Linked DNA regions of Homo sapiens. The protein of the gene in region 4 purifies or fractionates together with the protein of the main gene of each other region. This does not show direct contact. Each region holds a gene or a part of one and is shown on either strand. Other genes may lie near its edges. The genes, in order: DPY19L4, SLC44A5, SLC47A1, OR2G6 and KIAA1549.

Region 1 (4,071 bases), on a different chromosome or scaffold from region 4:
AGATTTTTTCTGTCTTTTCCTAAATAATCATAGCTCTTTGTCTTATCCAAGATCAGTTTGGAGGTAAGAAATTACTTTTTGTGATTTCTACTTATCTTTTCCTCATGACCCCTTAATCTTGTAATATAAACTTACTCTGTTTTATGGTACATGTATTTTGAATTTCTCTGTTGGTACTTAGTGGCTGTGATCTTTGGTTTACTGGTGACACAAATGGAATTTTATGAAGCCTCGGGTACAGTTTCAGTAATTGGTGCTGTCTTGCTATCTGCTCTCTGAAGCCTTTCTATTCTGCTCTGATACCCACTTTTCTGCTGTTTTGAAGATCAGCTTACTTCTCCTTTCATGTCATGCCTGGCATGGACTTAAGCTAATCCATCCTTTTAAAGTTGGCTATCTGACATCTTTCATAGCCATTAAAATATTACTTAATTTTTTTTATAAAAACTTCTTCAAGCTAACTAAGCTATCTTAGTGAACATCATTCGGTGAAATTGTAAAGGTCTGCACTAAGTCACGAAAGTTTCCTTGCTTACTAAATAATTCTACACGAGAAGAGTGAATATATTTAGGAATATAATATGTTCATTTCTCAGCCTTGGTAGGGTGCATGATAAGGTCTTCGGAGCGATGATAATGGATTATGGAAACACTGCCTTCTAAATTTTAGGATTAAATCTTTTAAAAATTGGAAACCTTTGTGCTGGTTTCTCAGTGTCAATGAGAAGTTCAGGAGTATAGTGGGCATGGTGACTCACTTATGAAGAAGGCTTCTATTTGCTAACAGTGAGATGTTTTATAGACAATGTTTAGCAATAATGTGTTTTTTCATATAAATATACTCATTTGTATATTGATTGCATTTCTGCTATAAGCTTAATAAGCTTTTTAATATTATGTTTTATATCTTTTAATAGATGGTTTGTGAAGAAGGTGACAAGCTAACCTACTCAAAATATGGGCGATTTTGTCATGAGGTCAAAATTAACTATTCTCCATATGTGAATTATTTCACTAGAGTATACTGGAACAGATCCTACTTTGTATATAAAATCAACACTGTGATATCCTTCCAGTCTTGAAAAATAACAGAGCCTTCATTTCAAAGACTACCTGAAGTAAAATGCAGTTTTCTTCTACCTACTCGGTGTCTTTTGCAGATCAGAGTATGGACATTTGAAATATTGCTGCTTCTTTCCCCCTTCTGCTGTTAACTGGATCCAGAGTTCTGTGGGAAATAGAAGATCAAGCATTACTGTCCTTTGATTAAATGTGATATCTACCACTCTGCAATATTCCAGACAGGTGTCTTCCTTACCGTTACATGGTCTTTAACACTTTTACTGATTGCAATATTTTCCCCATAAAATCTTCATTCTATTATAATATTGATCTTGAATTTGAATATGTGCAAGGTCAGATACATTTCTCAAACATAACATTTAATAAATAATGTGATATAATTATTTAATAGAAAGAATAATTCCGACCTTCAAGCAAGTTTCTGAAGGTATTTTATGATGTATAACAACTGAAGTTTTACAATAAAAACTAATTTAAATGTTAGCTGAAGATATGTGGCATTTAAATTAAAATGGAAATTATATAAAGGAAAGTGATTTTTAAGGATATACATAAAGATATATTTAGAATTTTCATGATACTGTTCTCCTCATCTACTGCTTATGTTAAGTGAGAACTTTCTTAGTAATACATAATGCATGATGTTACTGCATTTTCTAAATGACTAGTAAGTGATTAGTTTTTTCACTTATGCCTATTAATTTGATACCAATTTAATCATGATAAAACAATAACCGTTAACATATATTTTGTTAAATGGACATTTAAAAGAATGTTGTTCAGGTTTTTTTTTTAAATACTGATATGGGGCATACAATCTATTCACATGTTTTCTACTGAAGTACTAAGTAAAAAAATTAAATCATTATCAGAATAAAAATATGTGTTCTAAAATTAGCAACAATTTCTGGGGATACATGCAGATGTTGTTAAACGTACCTCTGCATACAGATATATTATAAAACACAAGCAATGTTATTTATGAAACTGTGATGCAGTCTTCAACATCAAGAAAAAATGACAACTATAATAAAATTTACAACACAGTTTCACAGTCTAAATGCTATGTTCCTTTAAGTATTTTCATATTTTTAATCATTTATTAAGAGAAAATTGTGAAAAGTTAATTTGGCCTTATAGAGAGATTCAGGATAGATGTAGCCTATAGATGTGTCATTTTAATAAGTTGGGATACATGTTTAGTTTTTCCTTATATTCCTGTTCAGTGAACAGATTTTCATAATTCTCACTTGTTAAAGTGCTGCAAAAATTGCATTTTCAGTACTCTAAATTACTACATTAGAAGAGAGCATTTCTCCATTGTCTTTATTTTCTGTTATATATGTGTTGTAAAAGTACACTACATTAGAAGGGAGCTTTTCCGTTGTCTTTATTTTCTGTTATACATGTGTTGTTAAAGTACATGCATTCTTAGACTAACTCTCAGATGCTTTGCTCTTTTGGAGCTGAAGAATTGTTTGATGGTGATGTCATATATCTGATAGATTAGTTTCAGTGGTTCTCATTTCACTTTTATACGTAATTTCTTAACTATATTAAGATAGTTGCAGGCAGTGTACCTCAGGTTGACTCTGTACATCTGAATAGTGAGTCACTAGTATTTTGCTTCAAGCCTTCTGAAAATATAACCATAGTTACCTAAGCACACAGTGAATAGTCACATGGTAGTACTTGTGATTAGAGCATGTAAAACAATGTAATTGAAAAGTCAGCTTCCATATTTTGTAGGGGAAATAGAACACCCTACTTTTTATCTAGTGTGAAATATTTAATCGAATTTTTGTTGATTTATATTATGTTACCTGTGCTGAATTAGGTTTGGTACTTGTGTTTTGTTTGACATATTAGTAAGTTGCTTTTGCTTCTTTCTGTCAACTTATTTTTTAAATAAAATTGATCTGGAAAAATTGTTAATGGGATGTTTTAAATAATGAATTTTTCATCCAGCATCAGTTGAAAAGGAAAAGAAAGCTTCATTATGGAAATGACAATATTGAATATGACAGATAAGTTTATTTGCTTCTGTTTTAACTGCAGTTAATAGTACTAGACAACTTTAAGTGGAAAGCATTTAGTTTATTTCTTCACTTATTTGTAGAGTGAACAAATGATTCACAATTCTACAAGTAATTCCACTTAGGTAACTTACAGTTGTTAGGTTTGACAATAAAGATCTACTATGAGAGGAGAAGAATTTATGGGTTTTGGGTGGAAGGAATTTCTCAAAGAAATAAAAAATGTTCTTTGCCCTTGATACTGCAAACCCACTGATACAAGTGCCTTGAATTTATTATTATTATTATTTTTTATTTTTTTGAGATGGAGTTTCACTCTTGTCTCCCAGGCTGGAGTGCAATGGCGCGATCTTGGCTCACTGCAACCTCCGCTCGCTGCAACCTCCGCCTCCCAGGTTCAAGTGATTCTCCTGCCTCAGCCTCCGGAGTAGCTGGGATTACAGGCACCTGCCACCAAGCACGGCTAATTTTTGTATTTTTAGTAGAAACGGGGTTTCGCCATGTTGGCCAGGCTGGTCTCGAACTCCTGACCTCAGATGATCCACTCACCCCAGCCTCCCAAAGTGCTGGGATTACAGACGTGAGCCACTGCGCCCGGCGCAAGTCTTTGTTAAAAGTAGAGATGGAGGCCAGGCGCAGTGGCTCACTCCTGTAATCCCAGCACTTTGGGAGGCTGAGGCAGGCAGATCACGAGGTCAGGAGATCGAGACCATCTTGGCTAACACGGTGAAACCCCGTCTCTACTGAAAATACAAAAAATTAGCCGGGCAGGGTGGCGGGCGCCTGTAGTCCCAGCTACTCCGAGGCTGAAGCAGGAGAATGGCGTCAAGCGGCGAGGCGGAGCTTGCGGTGAGCCGAGATCATGCCGCTGCACTCCAGCCTGGGCAACAGAGCAAGACTCCATCTCAAAAAGAAAAAAAAAGTAGAGATGGGATCTCTAGCCTCCTAAGTT
Region 2 (4,071 bases), about 170 Mb from region 4:
GAAGTGTTTACAAATGGTTTGCATTGTAAAAATCACCAGTTTTCTGGCAGCCAAGACAATAGGAATAAATAAATAAATAAATCTACACATTCAGAATTTGGCTCAGGGCATCATTTAAGAAGAATATTTTACAAAGTGTGATGTTGCCCATAGTAACAGCTAGGGGAGGAAGAGAAACACAATTTAAGTTTCCTTGTTCTTTGTTATCACAGACAAGTGTCTCTGAAAGGAAATGATTCATGTCAACATGCAATACACTGAATCAAGCTGATGTACCTGGCTTTCAAGGAGTTGGCAATTAATAAAGATGGTGGAAAACATTTCTTACTGTCAAAATTCAAAATCAACTGCCAAACTTAAAATCCACATATTAGCCAAAACTTCCAAAGACTGGAAGCTAGTAGGTTCTAGACATTTCCTGAGACAAATTTTCATAAGTATTTTCAGCTACAAGAATGGGGAAGGTCACATAGTGATTTCCAGTTATTGCTCCCATGGTTAATGTTGGAGATGAGAGGAGAGATCTTTGAGCATTCTAGAGCCCTGCGTCCACCATGTTTTAGTGCTTGACCTTACTCGTGCTCCTTCTTCCATCCCATACCTGAACTGTTTGTTCATGTGATATTTTGTAGATAGATGGCTTTCCTTAGACCACTGAAGCACTAGGAAAACATTAAACATTTCATTTCCATTTACAACCAGAGGAAGAGCTAACTAGTACATAAAGTTCTCTTGAATTCTTTGTCCGGTTATTGAGAATTGATTTTAACAGGCTCAGAAACAAACAAACAAAAAACAAGGCCAGACTTTTTTCCAGGAGGTTTTCTTTGAATATATCTCCCTATAGTTATCGTCTCTCTTGATCCCAGTGTGAAGTTGGTGCTGTGGGTTATTCTAAAATGCAAACTGTAAATTTTATACAAGTGGATTGTTCAGTAATGGCCTGTCAGAGAGTAAATGTTCTCTGTTTCTCTTAAGGGCAATGTGCTAGAGAAATAATCTCTCAGGATGTGTAGTTGTGCAGCTAACAAGTTCTGCTCTTTTACTTACTGACTCTACTTTCTGTTGGTTTGCCAAAGAAATGGCATGGAAGGTGAAAGCCAGATTAAGCTTCTGCTAGGTACTAGGTTCTCCAGGACTTTTCAAGTGAGGTACTAATATTAAAAAAATCTTTTTTTTTTTCTCAGAGCCAGGATCTTGCTCTGTTACTCAGGCTGGAATACAGTGGCACTATCATAGCTCACTGCAGCCTTGAACTCCTGGGCCCAGGTGATCCTCCCACCTCAGCCTCCTGGGTAGCTAGGACTACAGGTGTGTGCTACCGTGCCTGGCTAATTTATTTATTTATTTATTTATTTATTTTCTAGAGATAGGGTCTCACTATGTTGCCCAGGCTGGTCTCAAGCTGGGCTTCAAGCAGTTCTCCCCATCTTGGCCTCTGAAAGCACTAAGATTACAGGTATGAGCCACAGTGCCTAGCCAAAAAAAGAAAACCCTATTTTGTGTATGGGAGTTGCATATGCAACTATAGGAGCATCATGTATAAGTCAGTGATGAAAGCTCTAAAGAAGTATTTTAACTCTATGTATCAAAATTAATCCAACTATTTCCTAGAGGCACTCCTCTCCGAATCCTATCCATTTGTCATTGTGATGCACAGTGCGAATTGGCCCTATATGTCCTTGAAACCACCTTGTCATCTTGGCTTTATCAGAATTTATAAATCCTCTCCTCAAAGAATTCCACATATCTAGTTCCCAGAGTCCTGTTACGTCTTCAGTTCTGTTAACAAAGCATGGCAGAAGCCAATCATTATTATTCACTTAAAAAATCAAGAAATGAACAAAATAATTTCATGCTAACAGTATGCCATGAAGCCTGTGCTTCATTTCAGTAGTTGACTCTTCTGTGCTTTGCAAACTCCATTCTCTTAGCTGTTAAGATTTCTTTTTAAATTTTGTATTTTTCTCTAAGCCTTGTTGAGGTATAATTTTTTTATCCAACTTTATTGAGATATAATTAATAAATAACAACTGTAAATATTTAAGGTGTGTAATGTTTTGATATATGCATATATAGTAAAATGATTGCCACAGTCAAGCTAATGAACATGTCCATAACCTCCCATAGTTATCTTTGTGTGTGTGTGGTGAGAATACTAACGAGCTTAGCAAATTTCAAGTTAACAATACAGTATTATTAACTATAGTCACCATGCTGTACATGTGAGTGCCATAATTTATTCATCCTGCATAACTGAAAGTTTGTACCCTTTGACCAACATCTCTCTATTTTACTGACCCCTCAATCTCTGGTCATCACCCCTCTACTCTGTTTCTATGAGTTTGACATTTTTAGATTCCACATGTAAGTGAGATCATGAAGTATTTGTCTTTCTGCATCTGACTTATTTCTCAGGTATTATGGTTTAAATAACATCTACTAAGCAATATCTCTTTCCAGATAAACACGTTTTGTGGTTGCAGCCAGGTAACAGCAGATCCCCAAGCCAGCTAAGGACATGGGCCTTCACCATCTCACCTTTCAGTTATCCACCGAAGGGGGAAAACACACATACTGAATACTCACAGAAGCAGATGAAAATTGTTTCAACACACATTGCATAGACGCTGAAGAACCCATGTGCAATCAGGTAAGACCCAAAAATGACTGTCTGTAAATGGATGAAGAAGAGAACCAACATGTCATTTACTTTGACCAGAAGAAGAATAATGCAGCTATAAATGAAAGCCATGATGAGAAAGTTTTGAAGTACTCTGTATGGGAAAAGAGTTCAGTATAGAGACCAAAAAGTTCAATGATAATGCTTCTGCATACTTTGTACTGAGACTTAAACAAGTTTTATTAAATTAACTGCCTTTTTTTTCCCTTTTTTGGGGGGTACTATTTTCTTTCTTCCTTCCCTTCCTTTCCCCTTTCTTTTCTTTTCTTTTCTTTTTTTTCTTTTCTTTTCCCTCCCTCCCTCCTTCCCTTCCTCCCTTCCTTCCTTCCTTTCTCTCTCTCTCTTTCTCTTTCTTCCTTTCTTCTTTCTTTCTTTTTCTTAATAAAACAGAAGTTTATTTCTCCCTCGGATAACAGTTTATAAGAGGTGTTCCAGATAACAGAACAACCCTTCTCAACACAGTGATCCAGGGACTCTTGCCACATGCCCAGCTCTTTAGAAGAAAGAGAGAACAAATTTTTGTATCAAGCAAAGAGATTTTGCCAATGATATTTTGTGTCTCTTCAATCAGTTGATGCCAGTGTTTTTATTTCTGAAATATTCTTTTGAATTCTTTTTAAACTTTTATTTTTTTAACTTTTATTTTTGGTTAAGGGGTATGTGTACAGGTTTGTCATATAAGTAAATTATGTGTCATAGGGGTTTTGTGTACAGATTATTTCATCACCCAAGTAACAAGCCTAGTATCCAATAGGTAGTTTTTCGATCTTCTCCCTCCTTCTACCCTCCACCCTCAAGTAGGTCCCAGTGTCTGCTGTTTCCCCCTTTGTGTCTATGTGTACTCAATATTTACCTACAACTTATAAGTGAGAACATGCAGCATTTGGTTTTCTCTTCCTGTTTCAGTTTGCTTAGGATAACAGCCTCCAGCTCCATCCATGTTGCTGCAAAGGACATGATCTCATTCTTTCTCACGACTGTATAGTATTCCATGGTGTATTTGTACCACATTTTCTTTATCCAGTCTATAATTGATGACCTGCTCATTTTCTTCCTGCCACCCCCAGTACTTAGCAAAAATATGTCAGTTTTAGTATCTTGTACCCAAGGCAATAAAGCGTTAGGCATTAAGAGCACATACTGCCTGGGTTTGAATCACAGCTCAGGCACTCAACAAGTGAATTATCCTTTCTGTGTCTCCTAGATAAAACTGGCAGTGGGGGAGAGGCAAATGTGAGTAATGCCAGTATTTTTGAAATGTGGGTTAAATGACTTAATATATTATGATAGATACTGCAGGGCTTCACCCAGATCTACACTGCCTCATCCATCCTCAATTGTTGGAAATCTAGGCTGCTAATGACTCAGTTGCTTCCCTTACTAACAAT
Region 3 (4,071 bases), on a different chromosome or scaffold from region 4:
TGATTAAGAAATACAAGTGTAAATTCTTACAAGCCTATTGGAAAGCATATGGAAATATATTCAAAAGACATAAAATCGTACCTTTGTTTCACTTTTATGAATCTTTTTTTTTTTTTTTTTGGAGGGAAAGTATAACTTTTATTTACAAATAATTATTGAGCATGCTAGATGCTACTAGAACAAAAGTTACAGTTTCCACTGTTAAGGAGAAACAATGGAGAAACCAGCGTGAGCTCCAGTGCTTTCTTCGATTTGGTGCACTGAAGAATCCCATTTTGGGAGCAGAAAAACCCTGTGTGTTGTGTTAGCTGTTCCTTATCACCAACGAGAGTAAGTATTGTTACCCTCACTACATCTACGGGTAACTGAGGCACAAACGTTGTGAGGCAGTTAATGTTCCCAGGGTCACCCATGGGCCAGCTGGGAGGGCAGCATCGCCCCGTGAACATACCCTGGGCCCACTTTTATGAATCTTAAAGAAATAATCAGACAAGTATATGAAGATATTTTTTCCTAGGATGTTCCTTGAAGAGTTGTTAATATTGAAACATTGGAAATAAACTATTCAACCATAGGAAATTGATTTTAAAAGTATATCACATATAGTGGAATCCTATATACCATTAAGCATTTTGACTTAGATATAGTTAATGAATTTACTCAAATATAAAATGTAAATAAAATATTAAAAGTGAAGTAAAAAATCCATGTTAAAAAACTCTGCCAAGGATAGAAAAACAAAAACAAAAAACATAGGTCTGCAAGAGAATAATTCTTAAACAAAACAGAAAATGTGTACTCTATGTTTTAAAACATAACCAATATCAGAGGGAAAAAATCTAAGTGTTAATACTGCAAAAAATGCCAAGCATATCTGCTGGCTTGAGTTTCTCCCCACATTATAAACTCCCTTTGTTTTTAATTTTACATTTCTAAAATGGTACTTGCTTCCTTCAGAATCTCCAGTTGATGTTTTCAGGAAAATAAAGCCAAAGAAAAGCCTCCTAATGACTAGTGTTCTCTATGATCAAAATTTCCTCCCTTTTAAGGCTGAATAATACTCCACTGTATGCATAGAACCCATTTCATTTACCCGCAGACACATAGGTTGCTTCCACCTTTTGTCTACTGTCAATAATGCTCCTGTGAACACAGTTAACAAGTCAGGCGCGGTGGCTCACGCCTGTAATCCCAACACTTTGAGAGGCCAAGGCGGGTAGATCGCCTGAGGTCAGGAGTTCAAGACCAGCTGACCAACATGGTGAAACCCTGTCTCTACTGAAAATACAAAATTAGCTGGGCGTGGTGGCAGGCACCTGTAATCTCAGCTACTTGGGAGGCTGAGGCAGAAGAAATGCTTGAACCCGGGAGGCGGAGGTTGCAGTGAGCCGAGATCACACCATTGCACTCCAGCCAGGGCAACAAGAGTGGGACTCCATCTCAAAAAAAAAAAAAAAATCCCTTTAAGACCCTGCTTTCAGTTGTTTTGGGGATCTACCTTGCAGTAGCCACACTGTGTTTTCAGAGGCTTCAGAACCAGGCAGGAGCGGGCATAGTGACACAGGCAGCTTGATGTTTATGGTCATACACCCAGCCTCATCCCTCTGCTATGCCACCCACCTGGCCCCTCAAGGCATTTGTGTTGTGACAACTGAAAAAGATTCTAAAAGTATGGAAACAAAATCAAATCTTTCAAGGGAAGATTCAGCTGGGAGCTGCGTTAGGAGATGGAGAACCAGCAGATCATGTGCAGTTTCTCTCCAGCCCCCCTTCAGTTCCTAGGGAAGATCCAGCTGTAGCAGAGGTACCCTCCCAGGCTCAAGGATGGGATTTGACTTTTGTCCATCATTTCACAAATGATTCATGTACGAATGCCTGTGCTCATCCATAGACTCTTTCAGATACCAAGCAAGGAAAACGCCTGGCACCTCCCCATGATCGGCTCCCCTGCTTACCATGTACACAATGATGGCCAGTTCATACACGATGGACTGAGCGCCCAGCTCCACCATGCCGAGGATGCCTGGTGAAGAAAGACAGCTGTCGCCTTGCACCCAGACAGGGCCCCCAGGTTCCCACCAGTCCCCGTCATCCATCCTCATACAGACCACTGAGGAAGCTCCCGACCTCATAGGCCCACCACTCCATGCACAGCATGAGCATGCTGGGGATGGCCAGGCGGAGGAAGGAGGCCCAGTCCTGCAGGCACTCGAGGGACCAGCCTGTGGGGGGGACACACACATTTCCAGGAGATCTGGCCATCGGGCTGGAACTCAACCTGAGACAAAACCCACATCCCAGTTGGAAGACAAAAGGGCAGTCATTACCTCCCCATGTAGCTTGATGCAGTTTTTTCCCGAGGATGTAGAGAAAGAGGAGTAGAGCCAGGGTGTACTGGGAAATCAAGTTTGCCAGTGCAGAGCCTCTGGAAAGAACAGTCCCAATGAGAGGGAGGTACCTTCCTGCGCCTCTCCCTGCCCAACTCAGTGAGGAGGGGAGACTCATCCCTTCCCGTGCTGTCCTCAGCAGGCCAAGGTCTTCTTCCCAGAGCAGCCTCACCCTCCATCCCTGACAGTGCTTTCCACAGTGTGCAAGAAAGAGACCACGCATGGACACAAGAACCAGCTGAAGAGCCCACTCTTCTCCCTCCTGGAAAAACCACATGCAAGTCATCCCTTCTCCCTGTCCCAAGAGTATGTTGGACTCACATCACCCCAAGATGCAGTTGATGGAGAAACAGATAGTTGGCGAGGGCATTGACAAGGTTGGCTGCAACTCCAGTTACGATCTGGGGCAGTACAATTCCCTGGAAAAAGGACACCGCATGCCATCCTTGAGATCCACAGAATAGGACTGCCTTTCTGCTACCCAAGCACACACAGGCTCCAGCTGGCCTGCTCAGCGGGTATCACAGGCATAGCTGGGGGGCTTAACTGGGGAGGTCATGTCCTTGTTGCTCCTGCCTTTCCACTCTCCCACCCCTTTCTCTTCCTTCTCTCTTTGAGGTATAAAGTGCGGAGTTCTGGCCACAGAGAGACACAGGCAAGATATGTTCAGCAGCAGGGAAGGAAGAAGATAAATGGCTTATTTCCAACAGTGCAAGGACTGGCAGGGGCTAAATGGGTCAACAAGGCACCTTTGACACTGGACGATAGGAGAAAATGAGAATACTTTCTTCACCAAAATAGAAATTCAGAAAATTGACCTAAGATCTTGAAGAAACTAGAGTTTCTTTCTAGAATACGGAAGGGATTCCAACATATCTAACTTTCAAAAGTACAGGACTGGTGAAACATCCAGACTGTTTGGTGTCTCAAAGTAAGACAGGGGTGAAAGTAAAATTACATCAGACCAAGGAAGTAAAACTCTGTCCTGCCCCGCATCCGGATAGAATAGCAGACGCAGATAAAGTCAGTGCAAACGTAAAAGGAAACCTCCTTTCTCCCAAGGTCACGCTGTCCCCATAAAGTGTCATTACTCCCCTAGTGGAATGACGAGTGCTTTCTGACTCACTGAGAAACTTTGTTGTCTAAAATCAGACTGTTCAGAAACATTGCTGTTTGAAATCATTTCAGTAAAAAGAAAACACCCCACTCTCGCGTGGAGGCTCAAAATCATGTTAACACAAAAAAGTAGCCTCAATTTCCAACCCAGGCACAGAGCTTCGTGGGAGCTCCTGGATGTGGCATTTTACATCTGTCCACCCTCAACATCCTTCTTAGCCTTGAGTTTCCAAAGGAGGAGCACCAGGTCCACGTCACAGCCCAGGCCTGATGTTGGGCCCCTCACTCACAGATCTGCTCAGCGCCTATCAAACCATGATTTCGCTTAAATGTCACCTGAACCCCACCCTTCTTCAAACCTTTATAATAACTCTTCTTCCTTTGCTGAGGCATCCCACAGCCTCTCTAGTCTCTCTCACTGCGACAGGCCAATAAACACAACTGCAAACCCACTGGCCTACAGTCCTGTCTCTGGTGGTCTCAGGCTGATGGGGCCAGGACAATGGTCTTGGCCGACAACTTGTGTAGGCCACATATTTATGGGGAGGCCCTGGTTAGTTTGTAGCAA
Region 4 (4,071 bases):
TGATGTGTACCTGTTTTAGATTTACTAATTGTATTTATAAAATACATTATAAGTACATAATTATAAGCATTCACAAACAAAAGTATGCTCAATGTAGGTATTTAAAAAAGAGAAACTACTCATGTTATTCAATTATAGGGAAGATTTTTAATAAATGGTGGATATTTTTTAGATTAATCAGAAAAATGCTCACATTATAAATAAAAATAGTATGAAATTATACATGTATGATGATTATAAAAGCAGTATAAACATATCCATATCATAGGAAAGCTCTAAATTCAAGAAAGTAGTAACAGGATTTTATTTTCAAATGTGTTCCCATTTTCATCTGCAGTTAAGTAGTTTTTTTAGGTTGCTTTGCCTATGTTATATCTATTATTTTCTGGTTTCCTTTTGGGTGCAAATAACTTACAGCTAAAGATGCTAATTTCAGCAATAAGCAGATATTCTATTTTTTTCTGAATTATGTTTGAATTTATTGTATACAGTAATAATTTGATTTTATTTTCAGTGGGATTTGTATTCCATATTACCTTAAATGGATGTGAGTTTGTCTTTGAAAATGGTTGCTTCACAATTCATATGTAGGTTTTTCTACATATTGTGTTCATATCATTGCTTTACACATGGTTGTCTTTTCACCTGGAGCTATTTCTTTCCTTTAAATGCCACATCTTTTGCCCTGGGGCCATATTCCATGTAAATTGATTGAGACTCTGACACAGGTACATTCTTTCCTATGCTGTGTTGCTCGGGTTATCAGGAATAATGCATTTGTACATGTGACGCTTCCTGTAGAACTACTTCTCTACTTGCATATTGTAAATAAAAACATGTGCTCCTCAGCATGTTCTGCTCAGTTCCCAACTCTCCTCTCCATTACTGGAGGAGGAAAATCACATAAGAATATCCTAGAAGACAAATTTAACCAGGCTTCTTTTCCCTCGTTTTTGTTAAATTGGATATTCATCATTTTGTTTGCTAAAAGTATATTGAAGAGGTGCCAGCTGGACAGGGTATTTGTGAAGAGGCAGCCTGAGTCATTAGTGAATTCTCCTGATGCCTTTTTGTTCTTGTGTGCGCAGCCATTTTGCCTTCAGTCCAGGCTTTGGTAGGAGAGGCAGGTCCAAACGTTATCCTTAACATTCGTAGACAGGCTACAATATTCTCACACCAGGATGAATTATTATAAATCTGAATGTTGGAAGGCTGAGGCAGAGGGATCACTTAAACCCAGGAGGTCAAGGCTGCAGTGAGCCATGATTGAGCCACTGCACTCCAGCCTGGGCAACAGAGCAAGACCCTGTCCAAAAAAGAAAAGTCTAAATCACTTGAAAATTCCACTTCCACCCCAGATTCTGCCTGCATTTTACTCTTCATTTGCATTGATGTTTTCATGCTTTTTTCATGTGTATCATAATGAGAATATGAAGTAAAATTACAACCACAGATTAAATCACTTTTTTCTATAATTGCACAGTTCTCTTAAAATACTTGAGGTTGACGAATTGATGAAGTTCAATCGTTTTGGGAAAAGAAAGCAAGAAAGAGGCTGAGACACACAAAGATACACAGAGAGATAGAGACAGAATTAAATCAGAAAGTAAAAGTTTGGTCAAATATAAGAATACATTTATTAAAATGCTTCTAAATATTTCATTTTTTTTGCTGTTTTGGAAACCAAACATATAACTATGATCGTTAACGTGAGACAGTGTGTGGGATTCATATTTCAAATTTTTGAAGTATAAAATTACATAAGTAACTGTTTTCCAGAGTTTAAGGCCAAAAACAATAACTTATTTTATGAATTTTGTATAAATGTTAAAACACATTTTAGTATATGGCAATTTTACTCAACTTTTAATCAATCTCCTTAATTCAAGTTTGCTTATTTGATTCCTTTAATAAAATATTAGTCATTATTTGCATCCCACAATTCTGTGGAACCAAAGCATCACAACTCTTAATATTTGTGTTTCTCGTGTTGTAAATAAGCCAATAGAGTGGGATGGTTCCATTCTCCAGTTAAAAGTGACATATTCTGGGAAAATGGTCATGTATTTTTTCAGTCTGTTATATACATTGCTTTGCCTAGTTAGAGATATATGTATACATATATCTCAAATGTGAAATGTAGAAATGGTAGTGTGGATCAAGTGCTATGGAAACATATTATGAAACAGTTAATTCTGCACAAGGATGAGAAGGATGGTGTTTCAGGACAGCTAGTGAGTGCAGGTGACATTTCAGCTGAGTTTTGAAGCATTAGTAGAAGTCTATCAGATGGGCTGGCACATTAGAAGGAAATAATGGATACATGAACCTTGATGGCAGGTGGATGAAGGACAAACATTTTTTTCCAGATAGAACACAGGGTCTTGGATTGACAAGAGGAATGTCTGGGAGGATGAACCCTCATGCTGCTTTGGTGTGTTTCTCTTCTTTAGAATTCCAATGCTTCCTAGTCCCTGTGGCTTTGGGATTGACAAGAGGAATGTCTGGGGAGGATGAATCCTCACGCTGCCTTGAGGTGTTTCCCTTCTTTAGAATTCCAATGCTTCCTAGTCCCTGTGGCTTTGGGATTGACAAGAGGAATGTCTGGGGAGGATGAACCCTCACTCTGCCTTGAGGTGTTTCCCTTGTTTAGAATTCCAGGTGTTTCCTAGTCCTTGTGGCTTTGTCCAGCAGCACTACCCAGTATCAGGGTCCTCAAGGCCCCTTTCACATCTTTGTTTCTCAGAGTGTAGATAATGGGGTTTAAAAGTGGGGTGACTATGGTATAGAAAAGAGAAACAAACTTTCCCTGGTTTTTGGATCTCCTATTGGCCGGTTGAAGGTACATGAATATGATGGTCCCATAGAAAATGATGACCACAACCAGGTGAGACGAACAGGTCCCAAAGGCCTTTTGGCGGCCCGCAGCTGATTTTATCCTTAACACAGCTTGAGTGATAAAGCCATAGGAGACTAAGATGAGTAACACCGGGACAATTAGAAAGACTACACTGGCCACAAAGAGTTCTGCCTCGTTGAAAGTCGTATCCACACAGGCCAGTTTGATGAGCACTGGCACCTCACAGAAAATATGATCCAGTGTGCGATGACCACAGAGGGGCAGCTGCACAGTGAGGGAGCACTGAATTAGGGAGGTGATGAGGCCGCTGAGCCATGCTCCACCGGCCAGAGACGCACAGAACCTGGGGTGCATAATGGCTATGTAGCGCAGTGGCCGGCAGACAGCAGCATAGCGGTCATAAGCCATGACGGCCAAGAGAATACACTCAGACGAGCCCAACCCCATGGCCACATAGAGCTGGGCCACACAGCCACCGTAGCTCATGGTTTTGTCTTTCTTATTCATGGTAACCAGCAACTGTGGGGCAACACTGGTGGTAAAGCAGATGTCCACACACGAGAGGTTGCTGAGGAAGAAGTACATTGGAGTGTGGAGTCTGGAGTCCAGACAACATACTAGTATGAGGGCAGTGTTCCCCAGAAGGCTCAAGACGTAGAAGTACAAAATGATGGCAAAAAGAAACCTCTCTAGCTGAGGCTGATCTGAAAATCCCAGGAGAAGAAATCCCTTTTCAGAGCTGTTGTTGGTTTCCTCCATTTTTCCTGCAGCTTCAGGACTCTTCAGCTTCAAATACTAAGTGATTAATATTTGGGGATAGAAAGTAATGAGGTCAAGAATGGTAATCCACAGTCGTTTACAGTATAATTATCTTCCTTATATATCACCTAAAACATGTTGTGAAGACCTATAGAACTTTCCTCAACATAAATCCATGGGCGGGAAATGCCACTTCCTTCTATTTTTATTGAATAAAGTTTTACTCAAACAACAAAAGTATTGTATTAACATTTGTTTTATTTGATATTTGTATTTATTCACTCTTTGCTTATTCTTGTACTTTGCCCATTTTTACACCGATATATTTATATGTTCAAATGATGTATTTATGCAGGTAAAGCAACTGACCCAATGTCCTTTTGATGCAAATATTTTGTTATATGTATACAAATATATATATTTTTTGAGATGGAGTCGTTCTGTCGCCTGGA
Region 5 (4,071 bases), on a different chromosome or scaffold from region 4:
TTGAGGTTTGGGAAGCACTGGGCTAAGAGGTAAAGTGCCTTCTGTTCTAGCCTTCTGGGAATAGGTATTGTTGGAACATTGAAGGCTAAGTCAGCCTGGACTAACTCTGGAGCTATGTAAATCTCCAGAGACCTTGAGAGACACCTGCTTTTGGGACTGAGTCTGTGTAAATAGTGTGCAAGAACCATATTTTATTTGACCAGGCAACTAGATTAGAATTGTCCCCTAGACCTGCTGTTTTCATTCATTGCGAGCATTTGACTGGTTGTAAAAACACTGAGATACAGTCTGGATGTGGTGGCTCACGCTTATAATCCCAGCACTTTGGGAGGCTGAGGCAGGTGGGTCACCTGAGGCCAGGAGTTCGAGACCAGCCTGGCCAACATAGTGAAACCTCGTCTCTACTAAAAACACAAAAAAATAGCCAGGCATGGTAGTGGGTGCCTGTAATCCCAGCTACTCAGGAGGCTGAGGCTTGAACCCGGGAGGCAAAGGTTGCGGTGAGCTGAGATCGCGCCACTGCACTGCAGTCTGGGCAACAAAATGAGACTCTGTCTCAAAAAACAAAACCAAACCACTGAGATACTACCATAGCAGTTGGTAAATAGCTGCTGTACTGAATATTCCTTGCTCCCCACCCCCAAGTACCCTGAGCCTCCCTGCCCTCTTTCAGGACTCTTCTCCCAAGGACCACCGCCACCCTCCACCTCACCGAGATCCAGTGACTGAAGGGTTAATGCTCAGCACAGCAGGTGCCTCAAGGACTCTGCTTTAGTTTTTTGGCTGAAGACCATTCTGGCAGGTTTGAGGTGCTATCTCATTGTGGTTTTAATTTGCATTTCCCTAATGATTAGGGATGCTGAGCAATTTTTCTTTACCTGTTGACCATTTGTGTGTCTCTTTTGAGAAATGTCTGTTCAGATCCTTTACCTGTAAAATTAGAATAGCTCCCTTTCCGACTGTCAGTGCTCGTGCTCCACTGCTGTTAACTGTGTTGACTATCACCTGTACATTCATTCATTGATTTTTAATCTATCCCAGATCCAGTACTTAGAAAAAAAGTTAGGCTGGGTGCGGTGGCTCACGCCTGTGTTCCTAGCACTTTGGAAGCCCAAGGCGGGAGGATTGCTTGAGCTCAGGAGTTTAAGACCAGCCTGGGTAACATAGTGAGACCTTGTTTCTACAAAAGTACAAAAATTAGTTGGGCATGGTGGCATGCACCTGTAGTCTCAGCTATTCGGGAGGCTGAGGCAGGAGGATTGCTTGAGCCCAGCAGGTTGAGGCTGCAGTGGGCTGGGATTGTGCCACTGCACTCCAGCCTGGGTGATAGAGCAAGAACTTAAAACAAAAAAAAAGCTTGTTAAATGTTGTACTTGATGGTAGTTGAAGTCATAGATATGGAAGACACTAGTGAGGGGGGAGCATGGAGAGTTAGTAGACAAGGCAGCTGAGGACAGAAACCCTGAAACTAGCGTGAAGGAGAGGGGAAGACAAAGAGGAGCATACAGAGGAACTGACCATCATGACAAAATAGTGATATGAGAGCCAGGAGAGGAGGAGAGAGTTTTCCTCTAGGTGAGTGATCCATCATGTCAAATGCTACTGTACCAAACTGTTTCTTGAAGGATGGGATGAGGGCCAACTGATCAGAATCACCTGTTAAAAACCCAACTCATGGTCAAGCCAGCTCTACTGAAACAGGTGATGCCTGAGGATTTGTATTTTTGAAATGTTCCACAAGCTCTTTATGTTATTCTTAGGCCTGGTGAGGTTTGAGTTATTCCCTATAACTTAATGGTGGCAGGAGGGTTGGTGGAAGTTTTAAAAACATGTTTTAGACTTGATTGTGTTTGTAGGCTTCAAGAGTCAGTAAAAATACAGTGACTGGGCTGGGCGCGGTGGCTCATGCCTGTAATCCCAGCACTTTGGGAGGCCCAGGCAGGCAGTTCACTTGAGGTTAGGAGTTTGAGACCAGCCTGGCCAACATGGTGAAAACCCGCCATTACTAAAAATACAAAAATTAGCCAGGTGTGGTGGCGGGTGCCTGCAATCCTAGCTATTCGGGGGGCTGAGGCATGAGAATCACTTGAATCTGGGAGGCGGATGTTACAGTGAGCTGAGATTGTGCCACTTTACTCCAGCCTGGGTGACAGAGCGACACTCTATCTCAAAAACAAAACAAAACAAAACAAAAGCAGTGGTTGACAATTTAAGGAAGTAGAAGGAAGGACCTCATGGCTAATTTACCAAAAGTGAGGAGGTTCACCTGGGCAGGCAGGACCACCCTAAGAAGAGTTAGGAAGAAGTAATGTTGGGAGAAGGAATCGGAGGGACTGGTGGAAGGTTGGGAGTGAAGTCCAAGGTAATGGGGGTATCTGTGGTGATGTTAGGGAACCCACCGTGTGATTTTTGTCCTCTAGCACTTGACGTTCCAGTGTGTCTGGGAAAGGTGAGCCATTGGCCCGAGTCAGGGATGGGGAATCACAGGGCAGGTGTGAAGAGCCAAAGGGGATTGAAGGAGCTGGCAAGAGGTGGTCTGGATGAGGTAGGAGGTGAACCGTGGCTGGAGCAGTGGGAAAGGGACTGGGAGGAGGGGGTGCAGCTGAGATCCCAGGGCAGGTGTTGAGAGAGAGGTGGGGGAGGGCGGGAGGGATTGGGGTGTCATTGTGCCGAGTTTCAGAAGTGGGTCATCTCTAGTTTTGGTCTTGGGTAATGAACAGGGTAGGGTGTAGTGGTGGGAATGAGTTGTTGAAGTGGAACATGGAGGAAGGCTTTGGGGTGAATAACTTCTGTGGATGTTGAACTTGCCTGGAGAGAGGAAGAAAGGACTGTGAGCCAGGCACCAGCCCCTCAGTGAGTGAAAGAAAGTTCCCAGAGGACTGTGAATGGGAGGGGAGGAAGTCCGTCTTGAATGTTTCTGCTGTACCATCGCTGCCACCACTGCCCTCATTCAAGCTCCCATCCTCTTTTCTCCAGGTGACTGTCACGACCTCTACTTCTCCTCTCACTTCCTCCAGTTCATCCTCCACCTTCAGCAGGAAGGGCCTGCTAGGAACAGGTCACGTCCCTTCCTCCTTGCTTGACTGTCTGCAGTGGCCCCCATGGTTTTCATTACGCTCCACGTCTGAGTCAAAGCCTGTGTGCTCAGATAGCAGGTGTACAGGGCAGGAGTTGGGTGTCTAGGATGTGGGAAAATGGGCATGGAAGGTGCAGAATATTCCACATATTGGTACTGAAAGGGACCGAGAAGATCTTTCCAGCAAGAGAAGGGAAGTGATGTGATTTGGAGGCTGAGTTTTGCCCTCTCGAGGTTGAGGTCCAGCTGTAAGACGGTTTCTCAACCCTAGGGGGTGGGTTTTGTTGTGACAGCCGCTGACTGGGTAGGACCCAGCCCCTCAGAGGGCCAGCTTCTGCGGCATGAAGGGTGCTGTGTGTGTGCAAGGAGTGAAATAACGTAGGAAGAGGGAGTGGTAAGGTGGAGGCCATCTGTGCAGGTGAGGGCTAGGAAGAAGCCAGTCTGGGGTGGGGTTGGAAAGGGAGGCAGAGAGGGCAGGAGTGAAAGCTCCTGGGGGCTTGGAAGGGATGGGATCTAGGGCAAGAGTGGAGGCATTCATTTGAGAGAGGAGGAAAACAGAAGGAGAAACAGGTGGCTTGTCTGGGGACAGAGATGTATGGGGGAGTATGGGTCTATTGGTGGAGGGTGGGAGGCGAGCAGATCTGGAGAGAGGACAGCAGCGTGGGGGGATCAGGAGCTTGAGCAAACACAACTGGCTTCCAGAGGAGAGTGAGAAGGGATGAGTGAAAGAATTGCCAGGCAGTGGCAAGGGCCCAGTTGAAGTTGGAAGGCCAGTCTTGGTCGCAGTCCAGGCAGACACTCTGCTTGTCCCTCCAGCAGCCTGGGTGGCCCAGAGCCTTGGCGGAAGATAGGCCACAGCGGTCCTGGGGTGTTGTGTCGAGGGCAGGGCAGCTGGGAGGGCTCCTCACTCCTAGTGGTTTCCTGGTGCTTCCCAGTCCTTTGGAGTCTCTTGGAAACTCTCCTGTCACTTCTTTCTTCTTTGTTCTCTGTTTGGG

Evidence for each region.
Region 1: the proteins of OR2G6 (region 4) and DPY19L4 purify together in Homo sapiens (affinity purification with mass spectrometry; one large-scale study listed by BioGRID and IntAct). This does not show direct contact.
Region 2: the proteins of OR2G6 (region 4) and SLC44A5 purify together in Homo sapiens (affinity purification with mass spectrometry; one large-scale study listed by BioGRID and IntAct). This does not show direct contact.
Region 3: the proteins of OR2G6 (region 4) and SLC47A1 purify together in Homo sapiens (affinity purification with mass spectrometry; one large-scale study listed by BioGRID and IntAct). This does not show direct contact.
Region 5: the proteins of OR2G6 (region 4) and KIAA1549 purify together in Homo sapiens (affinity purification with mass spectrometry; one large-scale study listed by BioGRID and IntAct). This does not show direct contact.

The regions. Positions count from the first base shown.
Region 1 is NC_000008.11:94,788,829-94,792,899, forward strand, and holds part of DPY19L4 (probable C-mannosyltransferase DPY19L4), read left to right. Parts: intron 1-917; coding exon 918-1,082; 3' UTR 1,083-4,071. UniProt on the Homo sapiens protein: Probable C-mannosyltransferase that mediates C-mannosylation of tryptophan residues on target proteins.
Region 2 is NC_000001.11:75,208,879-75,212,949, forward strand, and holds part of SLC44A5 (choline transporter-like protein 5), read right to left. Parts: exon of another isoform or gene 3,056-4,071; intron 2,675-3,055; coding exon 2,590-2,674; intron 1-2,589.
Region 3 is NC_000017.11:19,553,947-19,558,017, reverse strand, and holds part of SLC47A1 (multidrug and toxin extrusion protein 1), read right to left. Parts: intron 2,807-4,071; coding exon 2,709-2,806; intron 2,426-2,708; coding exon 2,328-2,425; intron 2,223-2,327; coding exon 2,109-2,222; intron 2,024-2,108; coding exon 1,956-2,023; intron 459-1,955; exon of another isoform or gene 307-458; intron 1-306.
Region 4 is NC_000001.11:248,521,195-248,525,265, reverse strand, and holds part of OR2G6 (olfactory receptor 2G6), read right to left. Parts: intron 3,656-4,071; 5' UTR 3,620-3,655; coding exon 2,669-3,619; 3' UTR 1-2,668. UniProt on the Homo sapiens protein: Odorant receptor.
Region 5 is NC_000007.14:138,970,938-138,975,008, reverse strand, and holds part of KIAA1549 (UPF0606 protein KIAA1549), read left to right. Parts: intron 1-4,071. UniProt on the Homo sapiens protein: May play a role in photoreceptor function.